Regions from separate parts of the Homo sapiens genome. Here region 2 is linked to region 1. Evidence: fine-mapped expression QTL. Tissue or cell type: whole blood. Region 1 holds a variant in brackets; the other region holds the start of a gene. All regions are shown on one strand. Distances are from middle to middle.

Region 1 (8,109 bases):
TACAGGCACAGTTGAGGAAAGTTAGTTTAGGTTGTGAAATCCTACGCATGAAAAGTAACACATTGTAATGGCTTAAAAATGGGAAAGATAATGCTGTATATTTTGCACATGGGCAGAAAGTATATATACGCACACAGACATAAACACATGTATGTGTTTAATACACAATATGTAAAGGGCTTGGTCAAATTCTCTATAACAAATTTTGTGTAGATTCCTATTGTTATTTTAAAAGGGAGGAAATTATTGGTTTGGGAAGCAAAGAAGACAAAATTAATTTTAGTTAAAAAATTGATTCAAAGGGCCAGCTTATCCTCATAATTATTTTTTAATGTTTCATTCTGGGAAGACTACTACATATTACACTAGTTTTTATGTCGTAGGTAGAAACTTAATTAAATAGCAGTCTCACATATTCAGAATCTGCTTAAAAACAATTAATTTCTTTGTATACATATTTTTTAAATTTACCTGGGTCCAAGCATTATTGAACTCTTGCAACAATAATTAAGCAACAAACTTTAATAATTATTAAAATACCTTGGAACTAATGATAATTGTTCTTTTTAAGCTTTCGGAGCTCCCAAGCCGGAAAGAATATATGTAATTGGCTAAAATACTTACAAGGCTCTGGAGGAATTCTTCTAATGAAAAGCAAGATGGGAGACTTGCATCTATTGAATGGCTACCTTGTGTCAGACATTGTGTTAGGCACATTATCTCACTGAGTCCTAAACTAATCCCTGTAGAACAGGGGTCAGCAAACTATGGCCAAGGGCCAAATTTCACATTTGTAGATAGTTTTATCGTTACATAGCCATACTCATTCATTTACCTATCATCTGTGGCTTCTTTCTTGCTAAAAAGCAGGGTTTAGTAATTGCAACAGGGATCATATTGTCAGGTCCTTCACAGAAAAAGGTTACTAATCCTATTATAGAACATTTATGATTATCTGTTTTTGATGAAGGAATCAACGTTAAATTCAAAAGCACCAAAGCATTAATTTTTCTTCAGAAACTATTGTTGACTGAGAAAATGACCTCAAGAAGTGAACTAGCTTGAGAGATGACATGCTAATGATTAAGTAACTAATATTATATACAACTTGAATGTTTCTATAGTTTTGAAACAATAGGCAATTACCCTTGCGTTCAGATATCATATGAGTTTCTCATTGCTTCTTGAATGAAACAGAATCAGGAAATAAAGATGTCATTTATTGAGTTTGGATAAATGAACTAGAGCTGACATCTGTGAATACAACATTTATTTTTATTTTATTTATTTATTTATTTATTGAGACGGAGTCTCGCTCTGTTGCCCAGGCTGGAGTGCAGTAGCGCGATCTCGGTTCACTGCAACCTTTGCCTCCCAGGTTCAAGCAATTCTCCTGCCTCAGCCTCCCGAGTAGCTGGGACTACAGGCATGCGCCACCACGCCTGGCTAATTTTTTATGAATACAACATTATAATTTAGTCATGAAAATACTCCATTACTTGAAATGTGGATATATGTCAAGAGACAGAAAATAATCACAAAAGAGATTTGTTCTAAGCAAAATTATATGCTGAACTTTTAATTTTTGTTGGTGAGAAGGACACTTCCTCCCTACTCCTGATGCTTCCTTCCATTTGAAAGGAGCTGCACTAGCATAACACCTGGCCTACCTCTGTGCTTTCTCTTTCCTTGCAAAAATCTAATTTTTTCCCACCCATCCTCTATCACTCTGATGCCATGAGTATCTGCTAAGATCTTTGGCAACACTGGGTATGGTGGGTTTCCACTAAGTTGTAAACATATCTTTGTCTGAAATAGTTGGCCCAGGAGCCTGGAGACTGGCTTGTTTTCTAAATTTGGTGGGTGAGTGGGGCCAGTTCTCAGATAGTCTTTTGGGACTGTCAAGTGAGGCATGAGAGATTTGGCTTGAGACAGACTTGGCTGCAGCTGCTGAAGAAATCATAGCACTCCTCAGTCATCGAGAACCATCTGGCTGGGACTGAGCAGAACAGGAAGTTGAGGTGGTTGATGAATTTTGGACTTCAATTCCTGTGAAATTAGCCCACAAGGGCAGTAAGATTGATTATGGATTTGAATTACTTTGGATTTTGAATTTTAGAAACTTTATATTTGGACTTTCATTCTCCTTGACAATCTGATCCTGAGGTTGGGTTTTATGATCAAATGTGGGGCACCTTATTACTATCATGTTATTTTTGGATTAAGTGGTAGATTTGACCATTGTTTCCAACTATTTGCCCAATGAGTTAAAAAAAAAATTAAAACTGGGACTATTGAGAGATCTTTATTTTTCTTTTTTTTAATGTGAATGAAATGCCCTTTTTACAACTCTCCTAGTCTCTATGATTTAATCTGGCCAGTAACTTTTAGAAGCAAAACTGGACAAGTCAAGTTTAATTCCCTCCTCTCCTCTTTCTCTTAGGTACAAGCTACCCATGTGAATTATGCGTTCTGTTCAGCAATTCTATACTGTAAGCTTTTATGGAGTCAACCTTTGCCCCTGTGCAGGGAGGCTGCCCCAGATCTGCATTGCCCATTCCTTGGGGTTAAGATGGTATAAATTCACTTGTGCCCCTGGGATTTCTGAAGCAGAATTATAAGATGAAAAATGTCCTGTGACTGTCACTGTTAAGCACTGGAAGAACAGTGTGACTGTGTGAAAGGCTGTGCTATTCAGTCACAAAGTATCCATCAGTCAATCTTTGTAGAGAACTGTGCAGGGAAGTAGAATGTGGGGACTAGTCATGCAAAAAACAGGATGAGTTTTTCTTGGGATAAGCTGAAGTCGAGGTATTATGAAAAATTCAATGCTAGCAGGGTTGCAGAGAAATAGGAATGCTTTTACACTGTTGGTGGGAACGTAAATTAGTTCAACCATTGTGCAAGATGGTGTGGCAATTCCTCAAAGATCTAGAACCAGAAATATCATTTGACCCAGCAATCCCATTACTGGGTACATACCCCAAAGGAATATAAATCATTCAAATATAAATCATTCAAATATAAATCCATACAAAGATACATGCACATGTATGTTCGTTGCAGCACTATTCACAATAGCAAAGACATGGAATCAACCCAAATGCCCATCAACGACAGACTAGATAAAGAAAATGTGTTACATATACACCATGGAATACTATGCAGCCATTAAAAAAACGAGATCATGTCCTTTGCAGGGACATGGATGGAGCTGGAAGCCATTATCCTCAGCAAACTGAGGCAGGAACAGAAAACCAAACACTGCATGTTCTCACTTATAAGAGGGAGGAAAACAATGAGAACACATGGACACATGGAGGGGAATAACACACACTGAGGCCTGATTGGAGGAGGGAGAGCATTAGAAAAATAGCTAATGCCTGCTGGGCTTAGTACCTAGATGACAAGTTGATAGGTGCAGCAAACCACCATGGCACATGTTTACCTATGTAACAAACCTGCACATCTTGCACAGGTACTCCAGAACTTAAAATTAAAATTAAAATTAAAAAAGGCACATGCAATAAATGAGAGCGAGATGAAGAAAAAAGTCACAGTATGATGGGGTCATCTGCATAACATAAGTGATATTGAAACCTCTAGGGTAGAATAAAAATAATTTAGAAAAAAAGAACATCAAGAATATACACAGAATTGCCCACACACAATACCAAGAGCTTTCGTAACTGAGGAGAAAAAAGCATCAGTGAAGCAGTTCTAGAAGGTTTAAGCAGAAGCAAATAGTAATGTTTCAAAGAGAATTTTCAGGAGAGAGATCAATGGTATAAAAGTGATGTGAAGTCATCAAGCAGCATGAATTTAAAATACGTCGTCAGATTCAACAATCAACGTGGTAATTGTTGAAAAGAAAAGGTACATAGAAATGTTGTCAGGGTCACATTGAGTTTTTCTTATTCAGGCTAGGAGATACCAGAAGATGTCTGAAGATGGAGGAAATGCAAACTAGGAGGAGTTTCCTAGAAATGAGTGGAAATGTTTAGCAGGAGTTGATATTATTAACTATTATCTTAACAAACCTTCAGGCGAACTGCTCTAAGTAATCACTTGGAGCACGTTAGTCGTATTCATTCCTTTTGTGTTCACTGCAGATTTCCAAATAGTAGAAGTTTCTGAAGCATATTAGAAGGGATTATAACCTTTACCATAATTATACAGCTGAGACATATAAAGTATAAACCTCAAAATAGATGTAAACGATCCACATAATCACAAGGCACAACCACTATGAAAAT[A/G]CCACAATATTTTGCAGTTTATCTAAAAGTATCCACATTTCCTGCACTATCGTCTCATTGCACACTAGCAGCTGTTTAAATAATGCTATTTGCCACCTAGGGCACGCTCAATATATTCACAAGGCAAAGTTCTCATAAGTTCCATAAGCAGAGCATTCTTTTTAGCTTTAAACTTAGCTTTAAAGCCTGTAGTTCCTAGGTGCACATATGTCCCAATTTACCTAAACAATTCCAGTTCCTTCCTGTTGTCCTGATGTGATTGTTGATGGCACCCCTTTTCACTCCTGAAAGTGTCCTTGCATGGATGATAGATTGTACCATCACCCTCCTCTTACCTCTTACTTTCTCTCTGTTACACTCCAATGCAAGATCCACTCCACTCAGGGTTCTGTCTGACAAATATATTTTATACCCAATGACATAAAAATAAATATTACAGATTGATAAAAATATGTGGGCTCATCAGAACATTAGAGCTTATTGCTTGAGAATCACTATTCAAGATAAATGTAAAAAATGGCAGAAAAGAGAGTGATGACAGAAACTGCAAAGATGCGGCAGTGGCCAGAAACATAATAAAAATCCTAAAACTGAGGTCCACAATGAAACGAAAAACAGAGTACCTATCAACATTAGAGATGAAAAATAACCTTTACAATGGATTATTATTCAAATTAACTTCTTTAAAAATGCTACCATATTGGGAAAACTGGCTAGCCATATTTAGCAAGCTGAAACTGGATCCCTTCCTTACACCTTATACAAAAATTAATTTGAGATGGATTAAAGACTCAAATATTAGACCTAAAACCATAAAAACCCTAGAAGAAAATCTAGGCAATACCATTCAGGACATAGGCATGGGCAAGGACTTCATGTCTAAAACACCAAAAGCAATGGCAACAAAAGCCAAAATTGACAAGTGGGATCTAATTAAACTAAAGAGCTTCTGCACAGCAAAAGAAACTCCCATCAGAGTGAACAGGCAACCTACAGAATGGGAGAAAATTTTTGCAATCTACTTATCTGACAAAGGGCTAATATCCAGAATCTACTAAGAACTCAAACAAATGTACAAGAAAAAAACAAACAACCCCATCAATAAGTGGGCACAGGATATGAACAGACACTTCTCAAAAGAAGACATTTATGCAGCCAACACACACATGAAAAAATGCTCATCATCACTGGCCATCAGAGAAATGCAAATCAAAACCACAATGAGATACCATCTCACACCAGTTAGAATGGTGATCATTAAAAAGTCAGGAAACAACAGGTGCTGGAGAGGAAGTGGAGAAATAGGAACACTTTTACACTGTTGGTGGGACTGTAAACTAGTTCAACCATGGTGGAAAACAGTATGGCGATTCCTCAAGGATCTAGAACTAGAAATACCATTTGACCCAGCCATTCCATTACTGGGTATATACCCAAAGGATTATCAATCATGCTGCTATAAAGACACATGCACACATATGTTTATTGCGGCACTATTCACAATAGCAAAGACTTGGAACCAACCCAAATGTCCATCAATGATAGACTGGATTAAGAAAATGTGGCATATATACACCATGGAATACTATGCAGCCATAAAAAAGGATGAGTTCATGTTCTTTGTAGGGACATGGATGAAGCTGGAAACCATCATTCTCAGCAAACTCTCGCAAGGACAAAAACCAAACACTGCGTGTTCTCACTCATAGGTGGGAATTGAACAATGAGAACACTTGGACACAGGAAGGGGAACATCACACACTGGGGCCTGTAATGGGGTAGGGGGAGGGGAGAGGGATAGCATTAAGAGATATACCTAATGTAAATGACAAGTTAATGGGTGCAGCACAACAACATGGCACATGTATACATATGTAACAAACCTGCATGTTGTGCACATGTACCCTAGAAGTTAAAGTATAATAAAAAATAAATAAAAAATAAATAAAGAAAAATGCTAGCATATATAATTTTCACAAAATATCAACTTCATAATGTCCCATTCAGGTTCGGATGCCCTCGGTGACTCTTGGTTACCTACACAGACTTAGCTAGACTTGCAGTTTGCACCATTCAGCTTCAACGTCCTTTTCCAAAATCCTCTCTCCCTAATTTGAACTCCTTGGAGAAATTTGAGCTCCTTTTCCTTATTTATTATGGTCAATTGGCTGCATTGCTCATGAGGCAGTGATAAGGTTTCCTAGCTTCTCTGGCCTATTCAACTGTATCTATTCTGCTTCGGGTAACATTCTGCTGCTCAGCGTGATTACTATTTTCTCCTGACTGTGAAGCACCTACAGTGGGGAATTCAAAATCTGGCTGGTCATCTAAGTGAAATGGTACATTTTAAAAAGAAAGCTTCCCAGGCACCATTCTAGAGTTACAGGTTCAATTCTCTGGGGAATAGGATTCAGGAATCTGTACGTTTTACAAGACCTTTACATTGTTCTCACATGCAGGGTCTCTACCACACATTAGTCACTTAATCTGTGCTCCATTATTTTTGTTTTATATGTGCTTCTCAGGTTCACAAATGACCTCTATGTTGCTAAATGCAGCAGTCAATTCAGTTTCTACAAATTGCATTTGATACAGTTTATATGACATATATACCACATATCCACCACACACACACACACACACACACCCCTCCCTCTTCCATACCCCTACCCCAGGAATTTCTACACTTAGCTACATCCTTGTCTCAGTTTTCCTACTACCTCACAAATCACTCCTTCTCACTCACCTTTCCTGGTTTCTCCAGTTCTCCAGATCTTCAGTTTTAGAAGCGATCAAGGGTGTACCCCTTGAATTTTTATCTTTTGTATCCAAATTTATTCCTAGATGATTCCATTCAATTTTATTGCTTTAAATACTACCTCTAGGCTGCCAACTTACAGACCAATATCTCCAAACTAGACCTCTCCCTGCAAGTCCAGGCTTCCATATCCACTCACCTACTTGACACAGCCACTTGCCTAATGGGCACCTCTAGCTCAGCGTGACTGAGGGTGATCTCACCACCCCACCCAGACCTGCTTGTCCATCAGTCTACTTCATCTCATCCTTTGCTCAGTCCGAAAGCTTCAGAGATTTTGGCATTCCTCCTTTCCAATCTAACCCACCAGAAAGTCCTTTCGGATATACTTTTTAAATGTACCCCAAGTCTAATCACTTATCACCCTCCCTGACTTATAGCAAGTCACCATCATGGCTCATCTGGATTCCTGCAGTAGCCTCCCAAATGGTCTCCCACTTCCATCTTTTTCCTTCCCTCTAATCACCACTCTCAGCCAAAGTGATGCTGTTCAGATGGAAGTCTCATCTTTCTCTCATCTACAAAAATAAATAAATAAGAAAACCTAAACAAACAAAAAGCCCTCTAATGCCTTTCTATCTTAGAGTGGAAGCCTGAGTCTTTCTAAGATGGACAAGGCTCTATGTGGCCTGGTTCTCTGTCACCCTGTTATCTCATCTCCTGCTATTCTGCCCCTCATTCACCTGTTCCAAGCCATTCCATCTCCCAGCCATTCCTCCAACATGCCAGGCATGCTTCCTACCCAGGCCTCTTCCCCCAGATATCCACAGGGCTCCCTCTCTGGCCTCCTTGGGTCTTTATTCAAGTGACACCTTCTTCACGGGGCCTTTCTGGGCCACCCTGTCTATAACTTCAACTCCTTCTCCCACCCTTCATTCCCTGTGCTATGTTTCATCCTCAGCACATACTCCTCATCACTATCTAATTTATCTACAATTTACTTATGTTGCTCATTGTCGTCCCCAGTTAGCCAACTAGAATATAAGCCCCACGACAGCAGGAATTTTTGCTTGCTTTTTTTTTTTTTTTGTCTTT
Region 2 (8,109 bases), 450 kb before region 1:
TGTGGTTTGTATTATATCCTCCCAGCACATAATATACCTGTGCATAAGCCACTCCCTAGTGGCTTCCCTGCGCAACTAGTATAAAATCCTTTCTTGCTATCATTGTCTGCAAGGCTCTGCAGGCTGTAGCCCCTGACTGTCTCTGACTCCACTACTTGTCTTTTCTTCCTCAGTCACCATGCTTCAGTCACAAGCTTTTCTGTTCTAGAAACTTCCTTTCTCAGGGCCTTTATACTTGCTGTTTCCTCTGCCTGAAATGCCCTCCCCCAGATCTTTTTTTAGTGGTTCCTCAAATGTACTTCCTTCAATAGGTTTTCTATAACCACCGCATCTAAAGTAGGATTTCCTCACTCATTATTCTTTACCTCATTCCTGTTTTACTTTCCTCATACTAATTTTCAGTATTGGAAATTTACTTTTGTTGTTTATTTTGAGTCATTTATTGTACAGTACCCCCATCCATCCCCATGTAAACTCTGTGAGGGCAGGAGTCATGTTGATCTGGTTTATGGCTATAGCCTCTGTGCTGATGCCTGACACATAATAGCATTCAGAATGATTCATTGAGTGAATGGATGATGAGACAAGTTATCTTGTGTAGCTCACCTAGCACATAGAAAATATTAAGCACAAAATAGGAGCTGAGAAACATGTAACGGTAGTAATGATAACTGACATTGATCAAGCTCTAATTATTGGCACTAGGTTAAATCCTTCACACACTGTATCATCTTAGTCCTCACCACAACTCTGTGAGGTAAGTATTATTATTATCCTAGTTTTATAGATGAGGAAACTGAATCTTAGCACAATCAAGAAATTTGCCCAAAGTCACAAAGCTAGTAAATTAACCCAGATTCAAAACCAACCTAATTTCAGCACAATGTTATTTGCTAACTATAATCTGTAACAAAATTATTTACTAACTTCTGCAAAGTGAAACTGCCATTATCTCCATTTGGATTTTTCAAAGTTTATAATTTCAAGGAGTACTATGTGAGTAACTACTATATGTATCTTGGGACTCAGGCTAGGTAAAGGGTACTAGGTGCCTAAGATACAGAGATAAATAATGTGACACAGTACTCAACTTCAGGGGGCACAGTTTAGGAAGAAAAACATAAGCGTGGTAGAATGGACATCTCCATGACCCAAACACTCCTCTGTCCTCTCACAAAAAAAAACAAAACAAAACAAACAAAAAAACACCTCCTGCTGTGGAGACTCATTCCTCTTAAATGTTTCCCATGAACCTGGCCCAGGTGTTTAATTTTGCATTCCTTAAATTATATTCTAACTGTTTAGCACTGTCTAGGAGGGACTGAATAGCCATCATTTACTGAGTGCCTACACGTGACAGGTGATTTATCTATGCTCACTGACTGAATTCTTACAACAATGAGGTGAGTGTCATTATTCCTGCTTTACAAATGAGCAGTCAACAGCTTATTGGGGCATTGGATTATAACCCAATGATTACAATAGAGTGTCTGATTACAATGCAGAATTGCCAATATTAGGATAGAAGGATGTGTATGCAAAGACCTATGGGAGCCCCAAGAAACAAATGGCTCTTGGCCTTCATAGATATTTATTTATTTTTATTTTGTTTGAGACAGTGTCTTCCTGTTTCCCAGTCTGGAGTGCAGTCGCATGATCATGGCTCACTGCAGCCTCAACCTCCTGGGTTCCGATCTGCCGACCTTAGCCTCCTAAGCAGCTGGGACTACAGGGGCACACCACCATGCCTGGCTAACTTCTTATTTTTTGTAAAGATGGGGTTTTGCCATGTTGCCCAGGCTGGTCTTGAGCTCCTGACCTCAAGCGATCCGCCTGCCTTGGCCTCCCAAAGTGCTGGGATTACAGGCGGGAGCCACTGAGTCCAGCCCCAGATATCTACTTAAACACTATAATGGTAACAAATATGAGAATATCTGGCTTTTTATTAGCTTTTTAATTAAATATTTAATAAATAATGTGTATCTCACCTTGTAAAATATTTTAACAATATCTTTACATTTTTTGAGAAAAAGCAAATACTTTCACATTTTTACTAAGAATAATATGTTAGAAGCTTTTTTATTATAATAATTGGAACACAGACTTTAAGTTTTTTTACATTACATTTTCCTGATATACTGCCTGAATTTTTTTTTTTCTGGGGCAAAGAAAAGTACTTTTCTTAAGCTACTGTCAGTTCCTTTACTTAAGATTATTCTGAAATGAACCCATCCTTCCCTCTAATGGAAAGATAGGTACATAATAAGATAAGCACTTTTTTTATTTGAACAAATCCAGTATTAGAGTAGTCTTTTGCAGCTAGTGAATCATGACAGCCTGCTAAGAAGAATGCCTTCAGTAAAATAAAGTTAGGTTGGGACTGACCAACATGAATGCATAAAGTTAACTCCATTAAAAAAAATTGACCAGGAAAATAAAACAATGCTAAGCCAACCACTGTAATACCAAAAACGCTGCTAAAAAATTTAGATTGCTTCTGAGTAACCAAAGGTGAACCACTCTCCACCCTGTGGTGAACATGTGACACTCTCCCTAACAGCAGCTCTGTGGGGAGGGCTTGCTCCCACTGAGAATTAATTCACTTTCCAGAAGTGAGAGATAAGGAAAAATTCCCATGACAATAATCCATTTGGTGAACTGCAGTTTGGTGGTGTTTGAAGTTTTACGCATATTTAAGAATCAAACATGCTCTTACTTCATCCCTGTTAGGAAAGCCACAATCCAGTTTCACGGAAAATGAAAGACAAGGATTCCTGCTGATCAAATCGCCTGGCTCCCTCCACAGAATCCCGGGAAGCCACTCTACATTCACAAACTTTGCACTCAATTCTTGGCACCTATCAACGCCATATCTCCAGGGCCAAGTGAAGAGTCTCATAGCAACTAAGTTAATATTTGAAAATTATGTAAAGAAACAAAATTACATCAATGGGCCCCAACAGATACAATGCACCTACAGAGGCACAAATAAAAGCTTCTTCTTTGCTACAAACTCCATTTTGTAATGGTCCTAAAAATTTAAAAACTTTATTGCTGCTTTCTTGCCTAAGAATTCCCTGTGACATCAACCCAAAACCCACATAAGCAGAAGTACACAATTTTCTAGAATCTTAGAACAAGTAAGTCTAAACATGAATCATATTTGTTTGGATGAAATTGACTGAAATAAATAGTAAAGAGTGATTTTGAGATACATATTGCAAAAATGTCCACTAATAACTTATCCTTGTATTTATCTGTATATTTTCAAAGGTAAGTAATGTGATGTCAAGGCCGACACAATCACATTAAACTGTGTCCTGCTTCCCCAACTGTAACTCTAATACTATTGCCCTCAGAGATTGCAGAGACCACAGAACCGAACTCCTTCCCACAAACCCCCGGATTTTTCTGTGGCAAAATCCCTTGTAGGAAATGAATTCTCTCTATATCTCAAAACAGCCTCACTTACCCAGTAGGCCCTGTAAGCACAGTGTCTCAGGTCCACAATACTTTTAGATGCCCAGGAAAATGTTTCCTTTTAAAATAAGAACAAAAAAGAAAAAAATTAGGTGTTGGTTAAAGAAAATGTTTAAATATATAATATTAAGATATTTATCTTTATGTCAGTGTTGGTATAAATGCGTGTTTATGAAAAAGGGACCCACCAAGGTGAAATGCCGTAGGACCCACAAATGTCATAATGCTGGCTGGCCTCAAAATGTCCTTCCTATTAAACTATTTTGAATGATTCCTAGGTATGCCAGATGCCAATTTTTCTTGGCCAGCCAGGGAACGTCTCATGTCTTTGGAAGAAATTATCTTTCTCTTACTGGATTCTTCTGAGAAAAGTGATTTGTTAAAAGTTTTGGTTATTTCAAATCAATATGTACTCAACTAGGACGTCTCCTCACCCACGTTAATTTTTTAAAGAGGAGGAAAGTAGGAGAAGATGAGCGCTTCATGTAAGGCTCTGCCAGCCTACGAGGAAATGCAATCCTCCAGGCTCGCCCGAGCGTGGGCTGCGGGCAGGGGACTGTGGGGCCGTTGTCTCGTTTTATTCCACGGCCGTGCAGCAGAGGGCGCGTGCCTCTCAGCACTCATGCTGCGCGCTCCCCTGCGCCTCTAGGATCGTATCCCTATTTGCCCCAAGGTCATAGCTCCTAACCCAGCTTGCCAGCCCCAGGCCGGGGACACCAGAGACTGAGCCCTTCGCGCTGGAGACCCCGGCGCGGGTGGGGCGGGAGGGCTCCGGGGCCAAGAGACAGGTCACAATGGGGACAGGGGACGAAAGGCGCCGGGGGTCCGGGTCCCGAGCAGTCCCCGCCGCCGCCAGACTCCGCAGCCGGGAGGGGGATGGGGTGCGCGTAGAGGCTCCGCGGCCCGGGTTGGACGGAGGAGCCCAGGAGCCACCGCAGCCGCCGCACGCCCAGAGCTCCGAGCTTCGCTGCCAGCCCAGGACACCGGGGCCCTGCCGTGGGCCGAGGGGAGCCGGGCGGCGGGAGAGGAGCCCCGGAGCCCCGGAGCCCCGGAGCCCCGCCGGGCGCCAGCCGAGAGGGCGTTTTCCCCGCCCCCGGAGACTCGCCCGCCCGGCCCGCCCCGCCCCGAGCGCGGGGAGTTCACCTCCGCCCGTCACCACCTCCCCTTGTCGCCTAGGTCCACCCGAGCCCCCTCCCCCGGGCCGCCCCCGAGCACGAAGTTGGCGGGAGCCTATAAAAGCTGGTGCCGGCGCGACCCGCGGACACACAGTGCAGGCGCCCAAGCCGCCGCCGCCAGATCGGTGCCGATTCCTGCCCTGCCCCGACCGCCAGCGCGACCATGTCCCATCACTGGGGGTACGGCAAACACAACGGTGAGTGCCGGCGACGGCCAGCGCGGGGGCGCCCCGATCCCCGATCCCCGATCCCCGATCCCCGAGCCCGGATGCCGGCCCGGGGCCCGCAGCGCCCGCACATGCTGTTTACCGCGGCCGCGGGGAGTGCTGGAGGCTCAGGTGCGCCCCGGGCGCTCGCTCCGCTCGCGGCTCCGCGGCGCCGGGGATGTCCCCCTTGCCCCAGCTGCGAGGCCACTGTGGAGGAATCCCCGCGTCCGCCGGAGGCGCGTAGGGCCCGAGGGAGGGGAGGCGCAGCCCTGGCCGCGGGACCCGAGGACAGTCCCTCCCGGGTCCCGACCTGGGGATCATTTTAACCGGACCTAGGAGGAGGCGGGAAAGGGTTGTAACGGAAAATTCTAGTTGTTGATCGCAGAGAAATTAAGAGACTCCCCTCCCCCCTCCCCCACCTTCCACCCCCACCCCACCCCTCCAGCTTCAGCACCACCTGTGGCTAAGGCGCTCAGCACGAACTGTCCCGGGGCATTTTCCAGTGCTGGTTTGAATCCATGGCTCTGATTTCCGAGTTTTCCCTTCATCTCTCGACTTCTAATGTTAGGGGGTCGGACATCAGGAATCGGGTTTTATCTTGGCCTCAGATCTGGTTCTTCGGAGCCAGCGGAGCAGAGGAGCATGCGTCTGGCGCACCTAGCGCATCTTTGGAGGGTGTGGGGCTTCCCAGGTAGTGGGGAACCCTGACGGTTAAAGGTGGGGTGGGCCCGGGCCTGGGCAGTGAGGAAAGGATCCAGACCTCCTTGAATGTCTTAAGTGAGCTTGCATATCCCAAAATCGCAACCACAAGCCCTGACATTAGTGTCTGCCCGATTTCAGTTGCTGAATTTCAGTAAAACGACCTTAAAATAGCTAATATTTATATAGCACTCAGTGATCTAAGAGCTTTACATATATCGATTCTAATTCTTACAGCGACATCTATGAGGTAGATTTCTAATTATCCCATATTACAAATGTGGAAACTGAGGCACAGATTACGTGTTTTCCCAAAATTTAGCCCATTGTTAAGTGATGCTTCTAAAATTGGAACTGAGCAGATTGGCTCCGGAATGATTGCTCTTCTCTAGGGGTCTGGGTGTACCTTTCCCCACAATGGGGGATTCACATGTCTTCTTTCCCCCAGGACCTGAGCACTGGCATAAGGACTTCCCCATTGCCAAGGGAGAGCGCCAGTCCCCTGTTGACATCGACACTCATACAGCCAAGTATGACCCTTCCCTGAAGCCCCTGTCTGTTTCCTATGATCAAGCAACTTCCCTGAGGATCCTCAACAATGGTCATGCTTTCAACGTGGAGTTTGATGACTCTCAGGACAAAGCAGGTCAGTGTTTAGAAAATAACTTGTGTCTTTTAGCCAGTAGCTGTTTTCCGAGCTTAATGGAAGGAGCCAGGAACAGTGGCAGGAACCCTCTTAATAATACAGTTTGTCTCAGGACTCAAGGATGCCACCCTGATCATTTTCATTAGGTCTCAGATTCTGAGAAGTAGGCTAATTAGTTTGAAGTGTCCCGGGGCCGTTTCTTCCCTGTAAAACCCTTGGCTTCTATGAAGGCCATTGAATAACTGCGATATGCCTGTGAAAAATCACAAAAGGTGCAAAGTCCCCTCGCAATAAAGATCAGTCACGATGAGATTTGCACCAATTGAACTTTTAAGATTGTAAAATATTTTGTCTTGCAGAGCTGATGCATATCCATTAAAAAGTATATCTTAGTGAGCCTTATCTTCAAGTTAGCAGCGAGAAGAGTAACAAAAACGTGCCAATTTAAAATACTGAAATTCTGGGAAAATGTTTTACTTATGAGTATTTCTTAGTATTGGGCTAGTGTGATAAAGATGGCAGCATGTTTTGATATCTACTCAGAAATTCATTTCACAAACGAAGATGTTTTAGAGTTGGTGAACATACCTGGCCCATTACTGACAAAACCAATTACCGTATTTATTGGTAATAGAGCTGTTTACAGGATGCTCACTGTAAAAAAAAAAAAAAAAAGAAAGAGAAAGAAGAAAAAAAATCCTGCTTTTTTTTTTTTATCTCTCTCTCTTTTGAAACAAGAGAACAATCCCATTCACACATAGTAGCTGCCTTCTTTGCTAAGCAGTTAATTTAATTGCCAGTGCCCTATTTTCCTGAGTGCTTTCCTCTGAAGGTCATAGAATGAAATGGTGCTGCAAACACATTTTGTTTGGTGGTGGTGTGGGAGTGAGGGGAGTGGTGGAACAAAATGAGAAAGTTTTGGAGTAGTGACCTACGGTACTAATATATTATATAATATGTAATTATAACCATTTAGTCAGGTAGACTATTCTTTGTCAGCAGCTATCCTATATAGTCAACTTGGTTTTGAAAAAAGAATTCTTCCCTCCTTTCAACTTTAAAAAAATTTGCAAACACCTGGCTTTCTGAAATGGTGATTCTGGAAGACAATTTGATGGGGGATAATGTGGAGATCATCTGAGAAATGTTTTCAACCTACCTGTGCCTGTCTGTGTGCACCCCTCCCCAGTACACACATACATACATACATACACACACACACACACACACACACACTTACAATCATACTCACACTTTCTGGCATAGTATGATGATTTATTAGAATCAAGTAAAGGTTGTACATTGAAAACAGTTCGGTGATTCTGCTACATTGCTTTCCCAAGCATTCCTCTCACTCCAAAGGAACAGTGCTCATATAATTAAATTAAACAATTTTTTTCTTGTAAAGAATACTGTATATTTATAACAAGACAAGGCCAAAGGTCTCAAGGTATTACACATACAGAAAGAATACTATAACATTTCACGTCTAGTCATTTACAAACCAAAAGAAGTGAGCTACTTTAGTCTGTAGCTGTACTTTTTTAAAGAGCCACAATGATGTCATTGTTTTCAATGGATGTAATGTCTGCCAAATTATGTATCTCATTGGATGCTACATAGAAATTGGATAGTTTAAGTCTTTTTTGGAGCACTGAAGAAACAAATCTCCAACAAATGAAAGCAGATGAGGTTCCTAATAGTCCTTAAAAAATGGATAGTGAAATAAATTATTCTAGTAATATGTATTACTGGAAAGTGGATTTGAACACATGGTCTGGTGGCTATCAGCATAGACTGGGGTCAGAGAGACCTGGATTTGAGTTCTAGAGCTGCCGGCAACTAGCTCAGAGACTTTGGGAGTAATACTGTCTAGGTTTTAATTGTTTTTAACTGTAAAGTT

Evidence for each region. PIP is the estimated chance that this variant, and not a neighbour inherited with it, causes the effect.
Region 2: it holds the start of CA2, and the variant in region 1 is fine-mapped to the expression of CA2 in whole blood (TOPMed, PIP above 0.99). The same link has a PIP of 0.9 or more in blood mononuclear cells.

Annotation. Positions count from the first base shown.
Region 1 is chr8:85,912,400-85,920,508 of GRCh38, forward strand. No RefSeq gene overlaps it. Among named protein-coding and RNA genes, the nearest start is that of LINC02849, 61 kb to the left of the region's middle. The variant A/G (reference allele first, on the strand shown) is at 4,257.
Region 2 is chr8:85,459,264-85,467,372 of GRCh38, forward strand. It overlaps CA2 (carbonic anhydrase 2), which reads left to right and starts at 4,744. Exons shown (of 7, transcript NM_000067.3): 1 at 4,744-4,852; 2 at 6,009-6,206. The coding sequence starts at 4,819. It overlaps CA3-AS1 (CA3 antisense RNA 1), which reads right to left and starts at 5,652. Exons shown (of 3, transcript NR_121630.1): 1 at 5,319-5,652; 2 at 3,473-3,538. RefSeq lists enhancers at 2,257-2,952, 4,853-5,352 and silencers at 3,980-4,239, 4,310-4,629, 4,740-5,209.